Regions from separate parts of the Homo sapiens genome. Here all the other regions are linked to region 1. The links come from fine-mapping of genetic effects on gene expression. A gene starts in region 1. Each other region holds a variant in brackets. All regions are shown on one strand. Distances are between the middles of the regions.

Region 1 (8,323 bases):
TATATAAACTATAATATATGTTTATATATTATATAAACTATAATATATGTTTATATATTATATAAACTATAATATATGTTTATATATTATATAAACTATAATATATGTTTATATATTATATAAACTATAATATATGTTTATATATTATATAAACTATAATATATGTTTATATATTATATAAACTATAATATATGTTTATATATTATATAAACTATAATATATATGTATATATTATATAAACTATAATATATATGTATATATTATATAAACTATAATATATGTTTATATATTATATAAACTATAATATATGTTTATATATTATATAAACTATAATATATATGTATATATTATATAAACTATAATATATATGTATATATTATATAAACTATAATATATATGTATATATTATATAAACTATAATATATTTTATATATTATATAAACTATAATATATTTTATATATTATATAAACTATAATATATATTTATATATTATATAAACTATAATATATATTTATATATAAAATATAATATATATATAAAATATAATATATATTTATATATAAAATATAATATATATATATAATATAATATATTTATATATCATATATATATAAAACCTATAATATAAATAGGTTATATTTTGGCTGGGTCGAAATATAACCTTTGGAGGCTTCCAATAAAGGTCAAGACTAAAATGCTCTGCAGCTTTTGTATTAATATTTGTAAAACAAGACTTGATTGCACTGAGTGAGTGTATACACTTAAACTGAATGCAGCACTCTACTGAGTAAGGAGTAGAAATAGAAAATAGATAATCCCCTTAAAATGTGCAGTTACTGATTAACTTTCCTTTTTTTTTTTTTTTTCTTGAGATGGAGTCTCACTCTGTCACCCAGGCTGGAGTGCAGTGGCGCAAAATCGGCTCACTGCAAGTTCTGCCTCCCGGGTTCACGCTATTCTCCTGCCTCAGCCTCCCGAGTAGCTGGGACTACAGGCGCCCGCCACCACGCCCAGCTAATTTTTTTTGTATTTTTAGTATAGATGGAGTTTCACCGTGTTAGCCAGGATGGTCTCGATCTCCCGACCTCGTGATCCGCCCGCCTCGGCCTCCCAAAGTGCTAGGATTACAGGCGTGAGACGGCGCCCGACCCTGATTAACTTTCTTTAGCAGTGAAGGACTGTCAAACTAAAGTTCTTCTTCTAAAAGATAATTTCCTTTTTTATTGTAAAATATAGTAGTGGAGTTTTTAAAAATCCCAATAGTTCAGTGATAACCACATCCTTAATACGTAAGAACAAACAAGAAAATTGTATCTGAAGATACTATAGCCAAGTCTCTGATAAATTCAAAGGGAAATCGACATCCCTTAAAATATCCAGATACTGAATTTACTTTTCATCAGTTAATACTTATAGCAACAGCCTGAGTGCCACTGGAGCCTACATTTTTATTAAAAGTTAGTCATTACTACTAAGCACATTCTCCCCACCCCTTGAAGAAGACAAAGAAAAAACACAACTACTCAGGTGTGGGGAAGGAGTGTGCATATGGGGGAAGGGAGGAAAGCACCAACTTGACTCTCTGGGAACAATTAAAAAATGAGACTTTGGTTTGACACAAGAATCACCAGCATGTCAGAAAACAAAGGAAGGGTCTTCTTTTAATAACTGCTTCGTTGCTCTTCTTTTTCTTAAAATGGAAATGGTTTGTCACAATGTAAACATGGAAATGAGCACCATGTGGAACAGTGATTAGGCAGCCGAAAGAAACTAACAGAACTACTGGAATTTGCCTTTGGAGTGGTGTAGATAACGAAGTAGGAAGTCCTTACGCATGCTTTAAGGCTCGTGTTTAATCAAAGACACATGCAATTCGAGATTAATATACAAGAACCACTTTTCGATTTTTTGGAAAAAAATTAAGTTCAGGATTAACTATGAAATAAAAATTTCACTATATATACCTGCACTAGTTGCTAAACTGCATTCCACTTAAAGGACAGTACAGATAACATGCCTCAGTAGACCAGAGTGTAAAAACACACTGACCACCACTAGACAGATCTCTATGTCATAAACCGTCTTCTCTTTTTTCAAACGGAGTCTCGTCTTTTCTTTTTTCAAACGGAGTCTCGCTCTGTCGCCCAGGCTGGAGTGCAGTGGCGCGATCTCGGATCACTGCAACCTCCGCCTCCCGGGTTCAAGCGATTCTCCTGCCTCAGCCTCCAGAGCAGCTGGGGCTACAGGCGCGCGCCACCACGCCCAGCTAATTTCTGTATTTTTAGTAGAGACAGGGTTTCACCATATTGGCCAGGCTTGTCTCGAGCTCCCGACCTCAGGTGAACCACCCACCGCGGCCTCCCAAAGTGCTGGAATTACAGGTGGGAGTGAGCCACCGCGCCCGGCCTATAAACCGCTTTTAAGGTTGCAAGATGAGCATGTACTAGGATGTGTAACTGGTAATTTCTGGAATGTCTGGCAACAAACCTCAAAATCAAATTTCCTTAGAAATCCTTGGCCTAAGTTTTATTTTTAAAAAGGTCAACACAAAATTAATACGTTAAAAAGGTGGCAAGTTCTATCGCATTAATAAAACCAAAGCACAGCACAGGCAATAATATATTAACAAGAAGGTAATTATTTCAGTAACAGCAGCAACAGGTTCCCTGGAGGAGAATCCCCATTTCTCTACAAACGCTGCACCTAGATGGATTCAGAGCACAAAATTTACCACAGCACAACATCTAGCAGACCGAAGTCAAGCAATGCTGATCTTTCAAAGAGATTTCACATTTCTTACCATTTTCTACCTTAACACTCCACAAAAAAAGCAAACACCTATCGAAAAATAAAAAATAACGTTTCTAGCAACCCAAAAGTAGCTCAGAGATCTCAAAAACAAATAGACAAAGGGGTGCTGATGCTAACAAAGTGACATTACAAAAACTAAGTGCAAAAGTAAACCCACTCCTCACAGTGTATCACAGATCAGTTAATGGCTCAGGTATAGAGCCTCCTCCCCCAGGTCCTCCCTTCCGTGACCGTGACTTCCCCAGTGGCTATTCTACATCAAGTAACTACTGAAAACGCCCAAGGAAAAGGAGCGGGGGAGGGTGGCTTTTGAAAATTCAGGTAGCCAAGAGTGACTGCTAATTTCATAAACAATAACGTAAAACAAGCAAACCACCGCTCCTAGCCAATGACGAAGCAGGAGTCAAAGTTCCACCACGTAATTCGGGCCTGGGCCTTTTTTCAGGCAAACACGTAATCGAAAGCACAGTCATTTCCCTCTTGATATTTTATTCATGCCGGCAATGCCATTCACAATGAAAAGGTAGCAAAACAAAAGAAAAAAATAACAGCAGCGAAGGCAAAGGGGCGCGGGGCGTCCCAGCCTCGGTCCCTCCCCGGCCGCGAGCCCCCGCAGGCCGGGACGGGAAGCGCCGCGTCCTCTCCGCCGAGGTCTCGACCCCCACCCGCCCCGCGGGGGCGAGGGTCCCCCAGGCGGCAGCGGGAGGGGACGTGGGGGCGGCGGGGACGCCGGACGCCACAGAGCGCCAGTCGCCTCGGGGGCCTCCCCGGGCTGCGGGAAGTTTCCGTCCCGCGGCCCCTCCCGGCGAGCCCGCCGCAGCCCACGCTCAGGTGCAAACTTCCCAAACCTCGCTGCGCCCGGGGTCCCAACCCGCGCCCAGACCCGACGCCGTCCCCCGGTGCGATCCTGGTGGTCTGTCTGCACTGCCCGCCGCACCCATGCCCAGAAGGGACTGGCTGGGCCGCGGACCCGCCCGGGGACTCCACCGAGGAAGCGGAGTGGCCCCTCGACCACCCCTGGCCCCGACCCTCCCCGCGGCCCCGGCCCCGACCCTCTCCGCGCCGCCCCGGGCCTGAGCGACCGGCCCGGCCTGCGCCGCGCGCCCCTCACCTTGGTGGCCATGGCGGGCGGGTCCCCCGGCCCGGGACGGCCGGCTCGTCTCCCGCGCCGCGGATGGTGATTCTGAGCCGCGCAGGCAAAGGCAAGGGCGAGGGCGGCGGCTCCGGCTGGGCCCCGGCGCGGCGGCCGCTCCTCCGCCTCGGCCCCGAGTCTCGACGCTCAGGCCCAGCCGCTGGGCGCTCGGCTACTCCCGCGCCGCACGCTCCTGCAGTTCCTGAAAGTCCCCGGCTGCGCGGCCCCCGCCCCTGTCGGCCGAGCCTCCCATTTACCGCGGCGCGCGCGACGCCCGCCGGAAGCGCGCCCTGGGCCCTCGGCCGCGGCCCGGCCTCCTCGCCTCCTGGCCGCCCCCGCGCCGCGCCGCCGCCCCGGGCAGTCACCGCCGCCGCCGCCGCCGCCGCCCCCGGGCGCCCTTGGTCGAGGCTGGGAGCGGCGTCCCGCGCAGCGGCGGGGTCCGGACGGGCGCCCCAGGCCATGGCCCGCAACCCTGCGTGGCCGCCCCAGGGGAAGCGATCCGCGGCCCACAGAGCCGCTCGGGGTAGCCGAACCCCGACTCCGGTTCACGCTCGGCCGGCGCCGCACGCCGTGGCTCGGCGCTTTCCGTGCATGAGGCGGGAGGGGGCGGCAGGAACTCTCGACGCCCCGGGCAGACAGGAGCCCCGCAACCCCGCTGTCTTTGCCCCACGCCTGGGGTGTTGCGGGGTCGCCGTGCCCTTGGCCGAGTACCCTGAGTACCACATAAACAGCTGGGAAGGAGCGGAGCGATGGCTTCCTGGGCCTCTTCCTCCTGCCCGGAGGCTCCCTCAGGCCGGGGTCCTGGCTTGAAGCCCCTGGGACGGGACGGTGGGGGGTTTCGTTCTGTGACGCCCCGTTAACCTCATTCTGGAATCTTGATAAGCTTAAAAATACCGGAGGGCCCGAGAGGTTTGGGGGACAACAGGCTCTCTGAAGTGGAAACGAGGTCTCTAAAATTTTCCATCTTTCTGTCAGTGTTTCTTTCCAGAGTTGGAGATATATATATGGGTGTTATGAATAAACGAATGACTTGAATTGAGCAGCAAGATTTTTCACTCAAGGACAAAACACGACTGGAAGATGTGTCTTAATTGGCATACTAGTGGAGTGCTTTTTTATTATTATGAGGGATATATTTGTAAGAAGAGACAACTATCAAATGTAAATCTCTGGTGTTTAATGTCAAGTTTGTGTCTTCTTAAATACATTCTATTTGACCTGAGATTTCACTAGTTATATTCAATAATGGGGTTTAAAATAGATACGGTATTGCAGAATTTTCTGTGAATTTTTGTGTTTGTTGAGCTCATGGTTAAGCTATAGTCATCATAATATGCATAAATAGTTGTCTTTCTCCGTAAAAAAAAATATTGGGAGGCCAACATTCATTGACGGCCTGCTTGCTGTATACTAGGCTTCCACATCCCCATCTCATTTAATCCTTATAAGAAACATTTGAGAAACTCATTATTGTCCACTGTTTACAAAGAAGAGCGACTCAGGGATCACTTAAATAACTTGCCCATTTGGTAATACTTATTCAAATCGAAAATGACCGTAGCCTTGGACCCAGCAGCCCTCCTGGGAATTTATCCTGTCAAACACTTGTACAAGTGTTCAAAGATGTTCATCAAAGATTGTTCTGTAATAACTCCAACCAGAAAGCAACCTATGTGTTTGTTAACAGGACTGTTTCAGTAAATAAGATACATCCATTCAAACAAAAATACTAGGAAGCCCGTAAGAAAATGATAATATTCTAAGAGGTGTTAAGAAAGATAAAAAGAACATTATGTATGGTACATTTATGTAAAAAAAAAAAAAAAAAGGAAATATGTGACACATTCCTAGAAAATTTCTGAGAAAGATTCGCCAGATCCTGTTGTCAGAGTTTTTGACCATGTGTATATATGACTTCATTTAAAAACAGCAGTTATATTTTAATAAACAATGGAAGAAATAACTTGGCTAAGAGCACACACTAGTATGTGGAAAAGCCAGGATTTGAACTCAGGCAATGTCATAAGTAATGAGTTTTCCATATTCTTTTAAATGTGAAGGCTGGGTACAGCTCTCTCTGCAGCCGTTCAACAATGCATCCCTTGATAGGAAGGTGCAAAGTTAGGGGCACACCTGTGAAGACAGGCCTTTCCACATGCTCATCTGGCAAATCCTATGCAAATAGTCATCCTGGGCACCCAGCACCATGAAAGCAAGAAGACTAGAGACTTCAAGCTTTTCCCACCAGAACAATTTCATAACCCTGGTTTTATTTTTTAGAAGTAATGGTGGAGGGCTAAGGTGGAAGGATTGCTTAAGCCCAGGTGTTCAACACCAGCCTGGGCAACATAGTGAGACCTCATTTCTAGAAGTTTTTTGTTGTTGTTGTTGTTTTAAAAAGAGCAAGACTGTGAAAAACAAATGAAAAAGTACATAAACAGAGATAAACATGGCCGGGCGCTGTGGCTCACGCCTGTAATCCCAGCACTTTGGGAGGCTGCGGCGGGCGGGTCACGAGGTGAAGAGATCGAAACCATCCTGGCCAACATGGTGAAACCCCGTCTCTACTAAAAATACAAAAATTAGCTGGGCATGGTGGCACGCGCCTGTAGTCCCAGCTACTCAGGAGGCTGAGGCAGGAGAATCACTTGAACCCGGAAGGCGGAGGTTGCAGTGGGCCGAGATCGAGCCACTGCACTCCAGCCTGGGCAAGACTCCGACTCAAAAAAAAAAAAAAAAAAAAAGAGATAAACATGTGCACTTTCACAATAAGCCACACCGAAGGGATCTTGAACATAACTAAAATCTTTTTCACATTTTTAGTAATGAATTGGGTAGTATATCTCCAGTAAATACTGCTAAACTTAGGAGTTTTATTTTTATATACGTCAGTCAAAATCAACATTACTTCATGAATGTTATAGAGGAGACCCACTTTCATAGAATATATTTGTATATAGAGAGAGAGACTGGGTCTTGTTCTGTCACCCAGGCTGGAGTGCAGTGGCCCAATCTCGGCTCACTGCAGCCTCCGCCTCCCAGGTTCAAGTGATTCTCCTGCCTCAGCCTCCGCAGTAGCTGGGATTACGGGCACCTGCCACCATGCCTGGCTAAGTTTTTTTTTATTTTTTATTTTTTATTTTTAGTAGAGACAGGGTTTTGCCACGTTGGCCAGGCTGGTCTCAAACTCCTTATCCTAAGTGATCCGTCTGCCTCAGCCTCCCAAAGTGCTGGGATTACAGTCGTGAGCCACTGCACCCGGTGGTGGCGTTTGTCTTCTGCTCCCACTTGATCAACCATGCATATCTCTCTTCTGTCCACCTCCGTCCTTTGAGCGAGCTTCCTTAGAGTTGATTCTCTACGCAGGCCTGCCTTTAGAACCCAGAACCCAGAACCCTGGGCCATGCTAAGTTCAGATTTTCTTCTACAGCATGAACTTCCATTACTCCAGGGGTGAGAACACAATTAGTTAAGCAATTGGATTTGCATTTGCAGACTGCGTTTGGTTATTACTAGATTGCACTTTCAAAAGAAAAAGACCTGGAGGCAGAGCAACAGAGCCACTCTGTTTAGGCTTTGTACTCTAGCTGCTTTTTTTTTTTTTTTTTTTGAATCATGCCACAGGAGGTAAAGTGATTAGGATTCACAGGAAGCTTCGTCCAGCCACACAGCTGGGGGGACAGGAAAATAATGACCACCACCTCTTCCCTGCGTTTGTTCAGTATGGCCAGGTGTTTTTATTCAAAATTAGATTCTCCTTTGGTTTTTAAGAGCTCAGAGCCCAACTAAATGCTTGGTCAACTAATGGGAAACTAGCATGGGAAAGTGCAACTATGGGAACTAATGTGGAACGGAGTGAAAATGTGTGATGGTCACCTAATGTAAGGATCGGAGGATGAGAATAATGTGTAACAATACAGAGTCAGCCTGGGTCTGGCACAAGGGGATACCTCCTCTCACTTTAGGGCATGAATTTAATGAGGTTAAAGAAAACCTTGGGGTGACCTTGAAAATAAACGTGGAAAGGAGTGCAGCTGGTGCCATTCCAATCCTAATAAACGTATGACGTCCTCACCTTGGACTGGATGCTGTTACAGGTGAGGGAGACAAAAGTCCCTGCTCTCTTAGAACTTAACAATCTGTAGAGGGTGGGGGAAGTCAATAAACTACAAATAAATGTCTAATGTGCCAGGTGCTTTTATAAGTGCTCTGAAGAATCTTTATAGGAATAAAGAGAAGCAGGAGAGGTTTTTTCCTATAAGGTTTCCCCTTGGCATTAGACTAGCTGAATGTATGTATGAAAAGTGTATGGTTTTAAAATTATGTTTGTTTTAGTTGGTTAGCTGATTGGTTGGTTTTCATTTTTGTTCCATTTTGAC
Region 2 (8,323 bases), 52 kb before region 1:
AAACCTTTTCAGAATCACAGCAGTGATGTAATCTAAACAACAATAACTGATGAAAAACAAGACTAGCACACACAGGAGTAGAGATTTTTAACAATTGAGATTCATTCCCATCAGCTGGTCCATTCATTCTAGTGGTTCAGCCACTAACGTGAAATACTCTTGAAACTGTGAAATAACCGATAAGTAACTAATAATGAAACTAATATTAACCACTAAAAACTATGCTTTCTTTTCAAAGGTAATAAAATGGTTGTCCTTATCTGGGTAATATAAAATCTGTATTTGAATAAGAAAATGAAGAGAGTTTGATTCAGTTCCTGGGTATCCTTCAATACATTTTCTACACACTTTGCATCTATGGTGTGTGTGTATGTGTGTGCACTGAAACACAAGAAAGATAACATTACCCATACTGAGGTGCCTTTTAAAAAAATCATACCTCTATCTGTACATCTAAATCTACCCTCACTCTCCCTAAGGGAAGCTCAGCTTTCCACTGCGTGGCTGCCTATAGTTCATCTGATCAGTCCCCTGCTGACAGACATTTACATTCCGGTTTTCTGCTGTTACAAACAATGCCGTAGGAAACGTTCTTGCCCAGAAACCTGCGTTCTGCGAGCAGATCTGCAGGAGGAACTCAGAACCGCTGGGCCTTAGAGATATGCATTGTAAATACTCATATACATTACCGAACCAGCCCCGAAAAGCTTCATCACTTTATCCTTTCCCTCGCTTTGTATGACATTGCCTGTCTGACCACACCTGTATGACACTAGCTTTTAAACTGTTTTCATTCTCTGCTAGTTTGATAGAAGAATCTTAAAATGAGCATTTTCCCAAGTATATTAACTATTAGTACCTTCCCCCACCAAAGGACAGCCTGTTTATACACTTTACCTATTTTTCTGAATTCTTCATCTTTTTCTTACAGATTAGCAAGAGTGTATGTATATGAATGGAATTAGCCTGTATCCGTCATAAGTCAGAAGTATTTTTGCTAATTTAATATTACTTGTTTACTTAAATGTATCAATTATATCCTTAATGGCCACTAGACTTTGTGCTGTCAGTCTCAGAAAGGGCTTCCATAGGCCGGATGCAATTGGGAGGCTGAAGTGGGCGGATCACAAGGTCAGGAGTTTGAGACCAGCCTGGCCAATATGGTGAAACCCCATCTCTACCAAAAATACAAAAATTACCTGGGCGTAGTGGCGGGCACCTGTAGTCCCAGCTACTCAGGAGATTGACGCAGGAGAATCATTTGAACCCAGGAGGAGGCAGAGGTTGCAGTGAGCTGACATCACGCCACTGCACTCCAGCCTGAGCGACTGAGCGAGACTCCGTCTCAAAAAAAAAAAAAAAATGGTGGGCTTCCATATTCCAAGATCATAAAAAAAATGCTGTCTATTATTTTCTCCAAGTAGTTTAATAAACAGCTTTATAATTTTCCAAATCAAACTGTTTCAGTCCATTTAAAGAACAACTCATCATATTCCTTTCACACTGACAATTCTAGTCTAAACTGCAGCCAAGCTGAACTGCGTTTTGGCTGATAAAGCGTTTTCTCACCACCAAAAGAGGAAAGCAATCACAGTGGGCCAGGGACCTGGATGCAGCAACACTGCCTTGACACCAGCAACTCTGCTCACCTGAGACTACTCAGTAAGAATCTAGAACCAAAGGGTCCCCCAAGCAACCTGAAATTAGGAGTTTTAAGAAAAACCAAAAGAAAGTGCTATCTTACATAGTAGGTTATACATTTATGAACTAGTTACTCTGAAATGCAGCACAGATTAAGAATACAAAGTCAAGGAAAGAGTAGCAGGCTCGAAATAAGTTATTCAAAGAGATCTTTAAAAAGATATACTTAAAGAAAAATACGACACTCAGGAAGTTGGATAACCAACTGAATGTGGGGCTTCAACTTGCTTGTGTGGGAGGAGAGTCAAATTTAAACTTACTGATGCTAAGATGAGTAAAGAGACACTGGCTCAGAAGTTGGCAGAGTGTGCCAAGCTGAAGAGATGCATGCCTGAGAGGGGATGTGCCCATGGGCCTGATGGACAGGAGAGAGGCCCAGCTTCTCTGAGGTTCCCGCTCTCAAAACAAAACCGACCCTGGGAGAGAGCACAGGCAATCAGAGCCTCCCAAGCAGCTCACCTCAGAGCACACATCTTCCTACCCGCATTCAGAAAATGAAAGCAATGGGCAAACCTGATAGGAAAATGTTTAAAAAGCTACCAATTAATGGTCATCTGGTTTCCTACTCGTGACATCTTTCATGGTATTTACAAAATGTACCCAAATTTTGGCCTACTTAAATTGTTCTCATATCCCAGATAACAGAGGGCAGAGATAGCAGTTAAAATATTTTTACTTGATTTACATTAAATTCAAATGCTCAAATTAATGACGGCTATGCTTTCTGCATTTTGTTAATTCTAGTTTCAGTTCATTTTTCTTTGCTTTCAAAGGATCTGATTAGATTCAATGTTAGACTAGATGCCCCCCCCGCTTTTTTTTTCTTTTATTACCTTCTAAATAACCTAAACGAAACAAATTTTAGACTTATACCAGTTTATATTAAACTACAAGTAAATACCAAGGAATATATTTCCTAACAGAACATGACTTAAATCTGAGTTTTAATTTCTTTTCATTAGCTAAACTGCCTCCACCTATCTTGAGATAATAGCTGGTCAGTCCCTAGAATTAAAATAAGATAAATATTTCTATTTTTTGTTTGCCTCACTTATTCTATGATCTCATTACCTCATTACAATTCTTTTATTAAAATCTTGTCCTTTATTAATGCAAACCCATTTCATGGGTGCTTCTGTATAACTCAGTGAATCTCAACTGGCTTGGCTTTGCTCCTAGGCAACACTTGGCTATATCTGGAGACATTTTTGGTTGTCACAACTGAGGTGGCGTGCATGTGACTGGCACCTGGTAGGTAGAAGCTAGGAAGGCTGCTCAATATCCTGCAGTGCCCAGGATGGGCCCGCCCCACTAGGAAAGGGCGCGGGGCCTCAAACGGCAATGAGGCTCAGGTTGAGAACCCCTGGGAAAACTTCCAGTGAGGTATAACTACTATTCACGTTTCACAGTGAGTAACCCTTACCTGGCCAATGTTCTCAAGTAGTATAGAATAATAAAATACAGAAGAGAATTCTTCAATTACAGTGATCAATCACCTTGCCTGCAAATTTTAAATATCTGAGTCTAATTTGTAATTCAGAATGTCTACAAAAAGCTGTTTTGAAATGTATAAAACCTGCAGTTAGTATATGGTGATAAACTTATATAAACTCACTTGGAAGGTCAATTGACAGATATTCTTTTTCTTTTGAGGAGTCTCACTCGCCCAGGCTGGAGTACAGTGGCACGATCTCGGCTTACTGCAGTGGCCGCCTCCCAGTTCAAGTCATTCTCCTGCTTCAGCCCCCCGAGCAGCTTGGATTACAGGTGCCTGCCACCACACCTAGCTAATTTTTGTATTTTTAGTAGAGATGGGGTTTCACCATGTTGGCCAGGATGGTCTCAAACTCCTGAACTCAGGTGATCCGCCCGCCTCGGCCTCCCAAAGTGCTGGTGGGATTACAGGCGTGAGCCACTGTGCCTGGCTAATAAACAGATATTTTATAAGCAAATACTTGTAAGTGATATGATTATCATCAGGCCTGATAGAATTTAAAACCTTTTATGTAGTTAAAAAAAAAATCAAGAAATAACATCTCCTAAAGCCCATTCATTTCTAAAGATGTAAGCAGTTAACAATATTTTAATTCTTTTTTTTTAACTTTTTTTTTAACGTGTGGAGATGGGGTTTCATCGTGTTGCCCAGGCTTGTCTCGAACTCCAGCACTCAAGCAATCCACCTGCCTTGGCCTCCCAAAGTGCTGGGATTACAGGCGTGAGCTACTGTGCCCAGCAGCAACAATATTTTGATACCTGTCTTCTCAATTTTCTTCTTGTCACTTACTCTGTGTCATCATTTGGCAATAAATGAACTAGACAAATTCACCTAAACTAGTCAAATTTTAATTAAAATTAATGTAAAATTTCCTTGTATTCTTCTCAAGTTATCCCACTATTCTAAGTTTCCTGGAAGCAATACAATAAGAGTACCAAGTGCTGAGTGCCTGGATCTGGTAGACTTTCACAGGCACTGCTTCTACTCGCAGGATGAGGGCCTCTAGCTCTGAGAGTGTAAGCAACATGCCAGGGCCAGGGCATCTATTTCCTGATCCAGGCCGAGGCTCTGACACTGACCTCCTCAACAACAAGAGCCTCCTCTTCTTCCTCTTCTTTCCATGCCTTTATCTAAGAGGGTATTTGCAGTTTCTGGGGTCTGTGTTCATATCATGACAGACTTCTAAAAGCAACCCTCAATACCCTGCCTTTTCTCTTATAATAAATTTTGCAAACAGTCATTATCAGGCTTAACAGGTGATTTCTTTGTTAGTACCCAACAGAAATGCCACAGAACAACCTAAAAGC[G/A]ACTTTGTTTTTGCTTTTGGGGAATGGCAATAGCTATAATGCATCACAAGCCTTCACAAATACGCTCTGTTTTCCGTAAAGCCAGCCACATCCAGAAGGAGGAAGTGAGACGTACCTGGTGATTGTTGCTGGCAGCCGACGAACTGGCCTGAGCTGTGCTGGCTGAGAGAGAATCAAGGAAGGCTTGGTCAGCCACTGAATTTCCACAAGAAAATTGATCTTTTCCATCACTGGGTAAAATCTGAATAGGAGAAAGAGCCGCAATTATTTTCATAGATTACGGTCACTTCAGGGAGTCTTCGAGGGCAAGCAAGAATTGTCAAAAAGGGTTTATATTCTTCAATGCTACAAATTTCTCTGTAAGCACTGCTTTTGCCGCATACTCATATTTTAATGGGTTGTATTTTCATTTTTATTTAGTTCAAACTATTTTTTAATTTCTCGAGATTTCTTCTTTGATCCATGCATTATTTAGAAGTGGATTGTTCAATCTCTAAGTATTTACAGATTTTCCATCTATCTTTCTGTTTTGATTTCTAGTGTGATTCCATTGTGGTCTCAGGGCAGACACTGTATGATTTCTTTCAAACATGTTGAGGTATGTTTTATGGCTCAGAATATGTGGTCTGTCTTAGAGAATGTTCCATGTAAGCTTGAAAAGAATGTGTATGCTGCTGTGGTTTGATGAAGCAGTCTATAGATGTCCCTAAGTGGACATCAATTTATTGATGGTGCTGAGTTCAACCACGTCCTTACTGATTTTCTGCCTGCAGGATCTATTTCTAATAGAGGGGGTTTTATATTCTTAAAGGTAAGCAAACCCAAGAATATCTGTAATCACTATTCCTTTATATAAGCAGAATCCTAGAAAATCCAATTACTGCCAATATCAACTTAAATTCTCAGATTTTTCTCAATCTTGTCAATTTGTGGGCTCCTGGATGCAAAGTGCATACAAGTAAAACAAGACTTCAACATAAGACCTACGGAGTGAGGCCAGGGGCCTGTGAATAGGGGGTTGCAGTTGTATGGAAAAGGCTGTGGTGTGTGCATGGGCACACGTTTCTGAGGGAAAGCCTAGAGATTGCATCGGATTCTCTGAGGGGTCATGACTCCCCACCCTCACTGTCTATCAACAACAGAAGGACGGCCTTAGATCTCACTCTGCAGACAGGTCCCAGGTAAACATCCTCTGGGGGGAATTCTTTTCTCCTGGAGGTGAACCAAAGGTACCTTTATTCTTGATCTAGCTCCAGTTGTACTCACAGGGCATCAGGAAACCTTCGCTTCTTTCTGTCACCCAACATGAAAGACAAGCTTACCAAGAACCTTCGCTCGGTTTGGAGGGACCGAAAGACAACCAGCAGGGGGCGCCAGGTGGTTGGCTCAGCTTGGGGGTGTCCCAGGCAGGACCAGCCCAGGCTGCTGTGTTGCTCTCCTGGGTATCCATCCTAACAGCTCTACCCAGGAGATCCCCACAGCAGCTCCCCCAAGACACCCCTCTGTCTATGGGAATGGGAGAAGGAACTGAGATATGCACTTAAAAAAATCTATTTAAACTGTGAGTCTATTGTACAATAAACAATATTATAGATGGCAGCAATATCAGCAAAGGAAAAATACGTTATATGTGTCATATTATAAATATATATCTATATTTATAATTTATATAATTTATAATACATTTTATAAAATTTATATATTTTGCTTATAAAAATATAAATATATATTTAAAATGTATATATTAACAGATATATTGAGATATAATTTCATATATCTTATTGAATTTATACAATTTATAATATATATTTATAATATAGATAATATTAGCAAAGGAAAAATACTAACTTTTATTCAGACCAATTAAAAGTTGCTATCCCTGGAAGAAACTTAACCTAAATATCTGTAGTCATTCTTTGAAGCTTGGGTCTACAGGTAATATTTTTCTTAGTTCTATTTCAATGTAGTTTCCATATTTTATATAGTTAACATTTATTATATTTACAATGGAAATTTTGTTTTGCAAAAAGTTGCTGACTTCTTGTAAGTTGATAATTCATAAAAAGATGCCTGGCAAAGATGAGCTCTAATGAATGAATGACAGGAAGCTCTTACTTCAACGTAGTCTGTGGGAACCAGCCCTCGTTCTCCTTTGATGTTTCTTCCTTCCAGCCATCCTCCACCTACATCCTAATAAGTCACCAAAAAAAAAAAAAAAAGAAAAAGATTACAGTTGAGATTTCCTGGAGAAATTTTGTGTGGAGGAATTGTTATACATAAAAAAAGCAATTAACATTAAGCTTTTCATTCCTAGAGAACACCGTTCAAAATCTTAAATTCTTAAGCCTTCTCTTTACTTCAGAAAATGATGTAACCTAAAAACAAGAAAAATCAAACTTCAATAATAAGTGATCAAAGATTGAAAACAGCTGATGATTAGATGACCCTCATCTTGTCTGTGTACTGGTCTGCGGCAGATAATAAAAGTGGCTTGCAGCTCTGAATGTGAAGCGGTGGGATGCGCATCCCAGGCCTGGAATCTGCCCTCTGCCACCTCGCTGGTCAACAGAATCAAGTGGAAATCCTCCAGGGAATCCAGAACCTTGCCTCAAGGGCTTCTGCACACTTCAGCTGACTCTTCTGGCACCCAAGTCGCTATACGAATTAATGTGGGTTGCTAGATGATGACAGAGACCCAGTCTCCCTGTTGCCCCATTCAAAGCCAGCCAACCCAGAGAACTGGCAGACTCATGAGTGAGGCTACCTTAGACCAGTCAGTCCCCAGCAGGGTCCAGTGATTGCAGACACACGCAGTGCAGCTCAGGAGAACCATCAAGCTGACTTGTAGATTCCTAAGCAGTAACAAATGGTTACTGGGTTAAACTAGTAAGTTTTAGGATTGTTATGCAGAAAAAGTGAACTGATCCATGGTTCCTCAGTTCTTCTGGATAAATAATATTAATAAACTAAGTAATAAAGTAGAACTCTATATCCCAGTATTGCCATTTCAATCTATGATCAAAGGAAAAATTGTAACTTTTATTCAGAATAGAAGTTGCTATCCTTGGAAGAAACTTTATCTAAATATTAAACTATTAATGTTGATATTATTATTAATTATTAACAATGTTAAGGGGCAGGTCCCACTTTCTCATCTTAACATAGTAAGAGTTTTTACAGTTTTAAAATAATGCCCTAATTAGTTAATAATCTGAATCTGAATAATCACATTCTCTTAAAAAATCACTTTAAGCCACAACTTTTGTCACTTTCTGACCACAATAGCAACTTGAGGACAAGTTGCTATTTTACCAAGAAAAATTAAATACTTCAATAAAGAAATTAGATGAGGCTGGGTACAGTGGCTCACACCTGTAATCCCAGCTACTCGGGAGGCTGGGGCATGAGAATTGCTTAAACCCAGAAGGCAGAGGTTACAGTGAGCCAAGATCACACCACCTCACTCCAGCCTGGGTGACAGGGTGAGAGCCTGTCTGCAAAAAAAAAAAAAAAAAAAAGGTAAGACTGAAGAATCTTTAATCTCTGCTATGATTAAAACTGAATCTATTTAACTTATACACATCTAGCATTTTTAAAAATTTTTAAAAATTATTATTATACTTTAAGTTCTAGGGTACATGTGCACAACGTGCAGGTTTGTTACATAGGTATACATGTGCCATGTTGGTGTGCTGCACCCATTAACTTGTCATTTACATTAGGTATTTCTCCTAATGCTATCCCTCCCCCCTCCTCCCACCCGACGACAGGCCCTGGTGTGCGACGTTCCCCGCCCTGTGTCCAAGTGTTCTCATTGTTC
Region 3 (8,323 bases), 53 kb after region 1:
GCGAAGAGAGCAGAAAGCACAGCAGATGTGAAGGCTTCGGAGGTGAGGGGTTGCAGCATGGACCAATGCAAGAGGAAATGTGATCCGGCGCTCCTCCCAGCTTTCCCCCAAGTATGCCAGAGGAAGGAGACCCCGGCAGGTGTGCAGAGACCTGTCTGTTGCAGACGGGGCCATTCCTAAGGCAGACACGTGGGTCGATGACCGCAGGGCCTTCCTCCCCCTATCTGAGGCAGATCGCCCCATCTGTGCTCTGCCCCTCACCCTCCACTTCACCTTGGAAGCCCCCCTCCTTATCTTCAACCTCCTCCTCTCTACGGCTTCCTCCCACCAGTGTGGAACCCACTCATGCTCACATCTGTTCCACTTACAAAGATGCTTTCTCTCCTGGGCATCCCCTCCAGCTGTAGCCTCTCACTTCTAGCCCAACTCTCACCTTCCCTCCCACATCCCTCCTCCACTACCCCACCTCCTCCACTCCCCCACCTCCTCCACTCCTCCACCTCCTCCACTCCCCTGGAAAGTCTCTTTCCCAATCCCTTCCTCACTGCCAAGCCCAGTGCAGCTTGGCTGGCCTTTCCATTGGGTCCTCTCCCTCTGGGCTGCGTCTGCCTCTTTCTCTCTGACCCTATCCCTTTGCGGTCCCCTGGGCAGGCTCCTCTGCCCTTGTGCACCTTCATCTCAAGTTGGCTCTCGTCTGTTCAGTCCAGACGCTTTCTTCATGGGATCTCAGGGTCTGTGCAGACTTCCAGTTCTCCAAACTCCAGAGAGGGTGTCCAGGAATATCAAATTGTTCACTCGCAGTTTCTCCAATTAATCGTGCCATAGCACCTCACCTTTAACACGTGCACAGGCGACCTCATCACCTCCGCTGGAGCCTGCTCTCTGCTCCTGCTCAAAAACAACACTTTGGCTCCCCATACTCTGACATCCTTCACCTCTTAACGTCCTCCCTCCTCCAATCCAACTCAGCACCTTATCCTGCCATCAAGTGCATGTACTGGAAATCTAGACGCTGCTCAGACTGTCCCATCCCAGTTGCCTCCTCCCTGATCTTGGGGATTGATCATCTCTTCCCTGGACGGCAGCCAAAGCTCCCTAACTGACATCCTTGCAATGCATTTTGCCCCTTTCAGTTTTGCTTTTCACATGTTAAGTCTTCTGACATGCAAATGTCTCCTTATATTGCTGCTGCCCTTTAAACCGTTCCATGGCTTCTCATCGCCCTCAGGAAAACTTACGCTGAACCTCTTACTTGTGCACAAGGCCCTACTTGTTCTGGCTCCTGCCGAGGTCGCCTGGCTCACCTGCTACCTACCTCCACCCCCACTGCAGACTTCTTCCACGTGCCTCTGGACATGTGACCTCTGCACCTCGGCTGCCTCTGTGCAGTGGGCTGGGACCCGTCCACTGTGTCCACAGTGTAGCTGGGGCCTAGCACCCTGGCTGCAGTCAAGGAGGGACCCAGTCAGTATTTGAGGTGAATGAATATTCTTTCCTGATCAATTTGTGTTGTTTTCTTCTTGACTTTTACTTAATTAAAAAAAATACGATTAAGGGAAGCATGACATGAGAAAGGATTGTAGGTGTCTTCTCTTAGGAGAGTAAACATGAAACAATGGAGGCTGAATGTGTTTAGAGGATAAATATGCTCACCAGTATCTCAGCTGGAATTGCCTTAGTGACGACATCATCACTTTCCCTCAGATGTGGATGTCGAGTTTGTAATACCAAGAACCGTTGGGAGAAGCTCCCGTCGTCTGCTTTCTCGTCTCTCCCCACCATTCTCCCTGGGTGGCCTTATCCGTGTCCAGCTCCAGCTCACCCCTTATTCCCCCATGATCTCCATTTCCAGCCCAGATTATTTCCTAAGCTCCACGCTCTAGTGGCCTCCACGTGTTTCCACCCAAAGATTTCCCATATTGAGGCTCCTTACTTGGGCTCAATGTGCCTTAACCTAGTTTTCTTAACCTCACACTTTCTTAACCTCACACTTCTGTATTTTCCTATCTCAGGGAAGGTCCCTGGACTAGTTTCCTGGGCTGCCATAACAAACTACCACAAAGCAGGTGGCTTTAAAACAGCAGAAATGTATTCTCCCCCAGTTCTGAAGGCTGGAAGTCCAAAACCAAGGCGGCGTTGTGGCCATGCTCTCCCCAGAGGCTCTGGGGAAGGATTCGTCCTCACCTCGTCTGTTTCAGGCGCTGCCAGCGGGCTGTGCTGGTCCTTAGCCTGCGGATGCATCACCCCACTCTCTGCCTCCCTTTTCACTTGGCCTTCATCCCTGTGTTTGGCCCCCATTTTCTTTTCTTCTAGGGATGCCAATCATTGGACCTAGGGCCCACTTGGGGTCTATTCCAGCAAGACTTCATCTTAATTCGATGATATCTGCAAAGGCCGGCCCTATTTTCAAATAAGGTCACAGGTACTGGGCATTAGGACTTGAACATATCTTTTGGGGGACACAGTCCTACCTGCTGGGAGTCCCACTGCCTCCTTCACCCCAGAAATCCTTGACCCATCCCTGTCCTCTCCTTCACACTCCACATCTAGGCTGTTTATCCTATTTTTAAAATAGCTTTCATGTTTTCTCTGTCCTCCACTCCACTGTCTTAGTTCCAGCCCTAATCAAGCTAGATGACCATGACAGCACCCCTACTCTTCCTCTTTGCCCTTTTGAGTCCCCCCAACCCATCCTTCAGCCAGCATCCTGGTTCTTAAAATTTGGCTGCCGGGCCGGGTGCAGTGCCTCACGCCGGTAATCCCAGAACTTTGGGAGGCCAAAGCAGGCGGATCACTTGAGGTCAGGAGTTCGAGACCAGCCTGGCCAACGTGGTGAAACCTCTCTCTACTAAAAATACAAAAATTAGCTGGGAATGGTGGTGGGTGCCTGTAATCCCAGCTACTCCAGTGGGTGAGGCAGGAGAATGGCTTGAGCCTGGGAGGCGGAGTTTGCAGTGAGCCGAGATGATGCCACTGTACTCCAGCCTGGGTGACAGAGTGAGACTCCATCTTAAAAAAAAAAAAAATTGCCTACCAGCCAGCCCACTCTGGATATGTCCCTGGCAGCTCCTCCTGCGTGCATCTTGGGCGACACTATCTCATTGACTCATTCTCCACCATCCTTTCCACCTCGATTCCTCTTCTCTTCTGAGAATCAAAACCAGTTCCTACCATCTCTGAACATTTAACTGCCTGTTAGCAGCTATACTATTTTTAAAAATACAAGTTATTGAATAATTACGACATATATATTATAAATGTAAAGTAGATATTACATCCATTTGTGTGTGGGGAAACTGAGGTTCCCGTGGGTTAAGCAACTTGCTGAAGAGGGAGCTGATGTTTGAACCTAAAACTCTATGGCTTTAAAGCTCTTCCTATTAACTGTATTACTAGGCTTCAGAAGATTTAGCCTTGTAAATATCTGGAAGAGCTTGCCAAGTTTCCTGTTCTTATAATTTTTAGTATTTTATAGACACTGTCTGCTGTAAGTGAATATAAAACACCTAAAGAAATTCATGACGATGATCCATACCTCAGTCATAAATGACCCATACCTCAGTCATAAATCCATACCTTAGTCATAAATGACT[A/G]AGTTATTCTTAGTCATTTATTTTCTTATTTCATAGTGAACTAATAACTATTTGGTTCAGAGCCTACAGGCCTATCATATTTTGCATAGCAATCCTGGTGAATTTATAGACAGTTGCCTGAATAATGAGCTTATTGTGTTACATCTTAAGTTTTGGTAAAGCCTTCTCTCTTTTTTTCTCCTTGAAATAAATATAAGCATAGGTATATTCACAAATTGTCTTTTAAACCTTTACAACAATAATTTTATTTTCAGTGCAAATTTTGTTTAGCATGAGACTCAGGCATCCTATGAAATTCTTAGCCAAATAAAATAATAAATCTTTTTTTTTTTTTTTGAGAAGGAGTCTCGCTCTGTCACCCAGGCTGGAGTACAGTGGCGCGATCTCGGCTCACTGCAAGCTCTGCCTCCCAGGTTCATGCCATTCTCCTGCCTCAGCCTCCCAAGTAGCTGGGACTTAAAGGCGCCTGCCACCATGTCTGGCTAATTTTTTGTATTATTATTATTTTTTTTTAGTAGAGACGGGGTTTCACCGTGTTAGCCAGGGTGGTCTCGATCTCCTGACCTCGTGATCTGCCCGCCTTGGCCTCCCAAAGTGCTGGGATTACAAGCGTGAGCCACCGCACCCGGCCAATAAATCATTTTTAAAAAGTATTTTCTGGCAAATAGCTTACCCATTTGGTGTTGGCTTGAACTTGTGGAATTTCTTTAGTTTGACTTATTAAAGTAAATGAAACTTGGGTGAGGAAAATTCCTGTTTTACTCAGGCAGCCAACTCAAAGCTCATGTTATTGAAATGCCCTCAGTCTCCTGTCTCCATGGCTGGCGAGCAGGAAGTCTTCCATGCGTGCACTGCTCTGATGGACTTTATCCACACACCATCCCTGACACACTCACAGACACCATCGGCCCTGAGCTGGGCGCTGTGAGCCTCCCTCACACTCCTGTCCTGCCTGATGGTATCCACAAAAAATCTGGAGGCCTTGGATGGAGTCCACGTACCATTAGCTGTGCGAAATTCTGCATAGATCTGTGGAAAACGTTCAGCCCTGGGCAGGATCAGCTACATAATTTGCAGACCTGGTGCAAAATGAGACTGCATGACCTCTTGTTCAAATATTACTAAGCATTTCAAGATGGTGACAACATTTACTCAAGCACTGAGCCCAACCATGCGCTGGCTCAGCTCACCTGCCCGTGAAGCCAGCCATGCCCTGGGGGCTGCTGTTCTGCTTTCAGACCCCTGGTGCTCTCCTTCTTCAACCTGTTATCTGGGACCTCATTTTCACCTGCATTTGTCATCGATTTCCAAGCACTGCTGGGTGTGTGGCCTAGATCCCTCCCCACAACACACCCAGTGCTTCCCCTTCCACTGCCTCTCCACATGGGCCTCCACCAAAAATCCTCCACACAGGCCTCCAGACCTGGCCCTTTCTGTCCCTTCCTTCCTTCCCTGACATCCTCAGCTCCAGCCAGGCCTTCTCCGGCCTTGGTGTGTCTACTGTGGCTTTCTCCCACGCTGCCCTCGGGAGGGATGCTCCTGGCCCCTGAGCCTCCTTACAGGTGACCCCCTCTGCCTGAATCGCCCTTCCTCTCTGTCTTCCCCTGGCTGACGCTTACTCAGCCTTCAGGTCTTGACTTCAGCACAACATCCCCTGTCCTCCAGGAGCTTTCCCTTCCTCCGCAGACCAGGAGAAATCCCCTGGCTGCCCACGCCCCAGCGTGCTCTTCCTGCTGGTACAGCTCAGTGTATTTCCTGTCCACGAAGATGGGGGTGCCTGCGCCTGCATCAGAGTAGAACTCTGCAAAAATTTGTTGATTGTTGGTCGGATCGATGCCAGGCTCTCTGGTGAATTCAGTGTCACACACAGAGAGAACTGCTGTCACTTAGCAATGAGGGAAATGCAGTGCCTGCTGTTGCTGCTGCTGTTGCTGCATGGGAGGCCCGAGGAGCATCCTTGGAGCTGGTGGCTCTGCTGAAAGACAGCATGGCTCATCTGAACAAGTACTGCTCACCAAAGTGTCCACTGCTTGTGTTGCTATTAAGTGTGTATTTATTTATTTATTTATTTATTTATTTATTTATTTATTTATTTTTGGAACGGAGTCTTGCTCTGTCGTCCAGGCTGGAGTGCAGTGGTACAATCTCAGCTCACTGCAACCTCTGCCTCCCAGGTTCAAGTGATTCTCCTGCTCCAGCCTCCCGAGTAGCTGGGATTACAGGCTCCTGCCACCACTGCAGGCTAATTTTTGTATTTTTGGTAGAGACGGGGTTTCCCCATGTTGGCCAGGCTGGTCTCAAACTCTTGACCTCAGGTGATCCGCCTGCTTCAGCCTCCCAAAGTGCTGGGATTACAGGCTTGAGCCACCGCGCCCGGCCAATTGTGTTTTTAAAAAGTGACTTCTGAGATGATATGTGCGTTTCAAAATTTTCTTCTCTGTTTTTCTGGTTTGCAACAATATGCGTATGGTACTTTGATGGTCATGAGAAACAACTTGTCCCCAGGAAATTTTACGTTAAAAAAAGTACCAGGCAAGGGCAATTTGCTGTTAGGGTTCATTTGAATTGCAAATGTATTTCCTCTGGCTGGAAAGGGGAAACATCTTTCCTGACCTGCTCTACACCCCACAGAAGAAAGGGTATGAAGAGGAAGTGAAGTATGGTGTCAACGGTGCCAGTTCATCTGCTTCTAAAAACATTTATGTAAAAGTAAGAAGACAAAACAGCCATCGCGCTAAACCCAGGGTGCTGCTGAGCCCCAGGGTGGTGTTGACTGCTGCTGAGGTCCTGACCTGGGAGGAGAGTGAGGGCCGGGCCTTCAACTCCAAGGCCATGGCTGTAAGAAACAATCATTTCCAACCCCACTTAATTATCTCTCCCCAGTCACTTTCTTTCCTTCTGTTATATTTGTCTTCTGCCATGTAGGTAAAGGAAGGAAAAACAAAATTTAAGAAAAGTCTATGGAGTAGGTTAGGCGGGGGTTAGCGTGGATGGTGAGACCGAAGGGTCAGAGGAACATGAGACAGGTCAGACTGGGGTGGCCAACTGTCCCAGTTCACCTGGGACTGAGGAAGTACCTGGGCCTGAGACTCTTGTTTTAAAACTGGGATGGTCCTGGACAAACCAGGAAGAGTAGATCCCCCTACTCCCTGATGGCCTGTGAGGCAGCAGACATGGCCCAGCTGTCCCCCCAGGAGCCTCCACTCTGAGGTCACATGCCCTGCACCTCCCCATTGCACCCTCCGAGGGCCTCACAGTATTACCATTTACCAAGGCAGTTCTGGGAATCAATTCTGGCCTGACATTGGGAACCCAAGCCATACTTTCATCTTCAACATGTCACTTTTTAAACAATTTTCTAGAATGAAATTACTTTAACTTTTGTTTTAAAATGATTTGTGATTAAAGAGAAAACAGGATCTTCATATGAACTGAGATTGTGGTACATTTGAACAGTCAAAATTGTTCCGTTTAACTTGCATTGAATGCAAATTTCAGTTCCTAAAAAACCCAAATAAAGTAATAAATGTTCAGGGAAGGAGGTTTGATTTATCTCTTTCCCAAAATGATGACCTAGTAGGAAAATTGCTGATTGAGGAAAAACACATGGAAGGTTCGCGATAATGCAGGGACAGACTTCATGGCTGCTAGAGGGTCGCCATGAAAATAATTTGTGTCGGGCCCCACTTTCCACATACTACCCTCAGTCTTTCTAATGACCCCATGAGGTAGGTGCTGCCATCATCCTGGCTCTACAGATGAGAAAACTCGGAGCAGTGAAGTGGCCTGAGGACAGGCGTCCAGGCCTCACTGTCACCAGCGTTGACAGCATTCCCATCATGGCTTTGCTTCATCTTTTCTTATTCAAAGACAGAGAAAAGAAAGTCTGTTTCTACTTCTGTATGGCCCTTGTGCTAGCTCAACCGCTCAGAGCAGGGGAGTTAAAGTGCCAGCAAGCGAAATACCTCCAGCTGAGTACCAAAGATGAGACAGTCAGAGGCAGCTTCATATTGAAGGCAGATCCTCTGAGTATGTCTTTATTGGGGAACTGACATTTATAGATGACAAAGAGCTTTCACATTCATTAGGTCAAGGAGGAGAAGCAGCGCTAGTAACAGTTGAAGGAGTAATTAGTAATAGTAACAATAAAAGTACCTTTCATTTAGTACTTGTCACATACTGGGTACATTTACCTATATATATTTCTAATTTTCAAAACAACCCAATGAGGAAACTGAGACCCTGAACGTGGCTTTATCCCAAGGCTAACCCCAATGTCCAAGCATTTTGCACTTTATCATATTCACATTTTCAAAAAAGTTTCTCTCATTTTACAGTTGAGGAAACAAAGATTTATTGGGGGTACAGGTTTCAGTGATTACACATCCTTAGAATCAATGGGCCAGATTTCACACCCAAGTGTCCAGAAGCCCCTCATACAGAACTCAGAGTCAGTGCCTGAGAGAAGCCACAAGGCTTGTCCAATCAGCTGGCATCCCGAGCCCCACAGAAGGATGGGATTCCAAGATAGTAGTTAGGAATCTTTTGGTTCTATGGGGTACAATCATCCAGAGTTAAGCAAACAAGAAAAATGTAATACCTGAGAAGTGTCCAGTAGAAGCAGGACTGGGCCTCCGCAGAGCTTGTGGAAGGGCAGGACTGAAGTCTGAGAAGCTTTCAGGGCTCTGTCTCTCGTTGCTGTAGGCCAACTTCCACGCACCTCAGTGCAA

Evidence for each region. PIP is the estimated chance that this variant, and not a neighbour inherited with it, causes the effect.
Region 2: its variant is the best candidate, but not a certain one, in a credible set for the expression of SNX9 in whole blood (INTERVAL, PIP 0.55).
Region 3: its variant is the best candidate, but not a certain one, in a credible set for the expression of SNX9 in fibroblasts (GTEx, PIP 0.82).

Annotation. Positions count from the first base shown.
Region 1 is chr6:157,819,047-157,827,369 of GRCh38, reverse strand. SNX9 (sorting nexin 9) reads right to left here and starts at 4,124. Exons shown (of 18, transcript NM_016224.5): 1 at 3,924-4,124. The coding sequence starts at 3,935. RefSeq lists an enhancer at 3,296-3,345 and a silencer at 3,996-4,315.
Region 2 is chr6:157,871,472-157,879,794 of GRCh38, reverse strand. It overlaps SNX9 (sorting nexin 9), which reads right to left. Exons shown (of 18, transcript NM_016224.5): 3 at 6,619-6,693; 4 at 4,619-4,744. Among named protein-coding and RNA genes, the nearest start is that of SNX9-AS1, 17 kb to the left of the region's middle. RefSeq lists a silencer at 5,915-5,984. The variant G/A (reference allele first, on the strand shown) is at 4,504.
Region 3 is chr6:157,766,407-157,774,729 of GRCh38, reverse strand. No RefSeq gene overlaps it. Among named protein-coding and RNA genes, the nearest start is that of SNX9, 53 kb to the left of the region's middle. The variant A/G (reference allele first, on the strand shown) is at 3,594.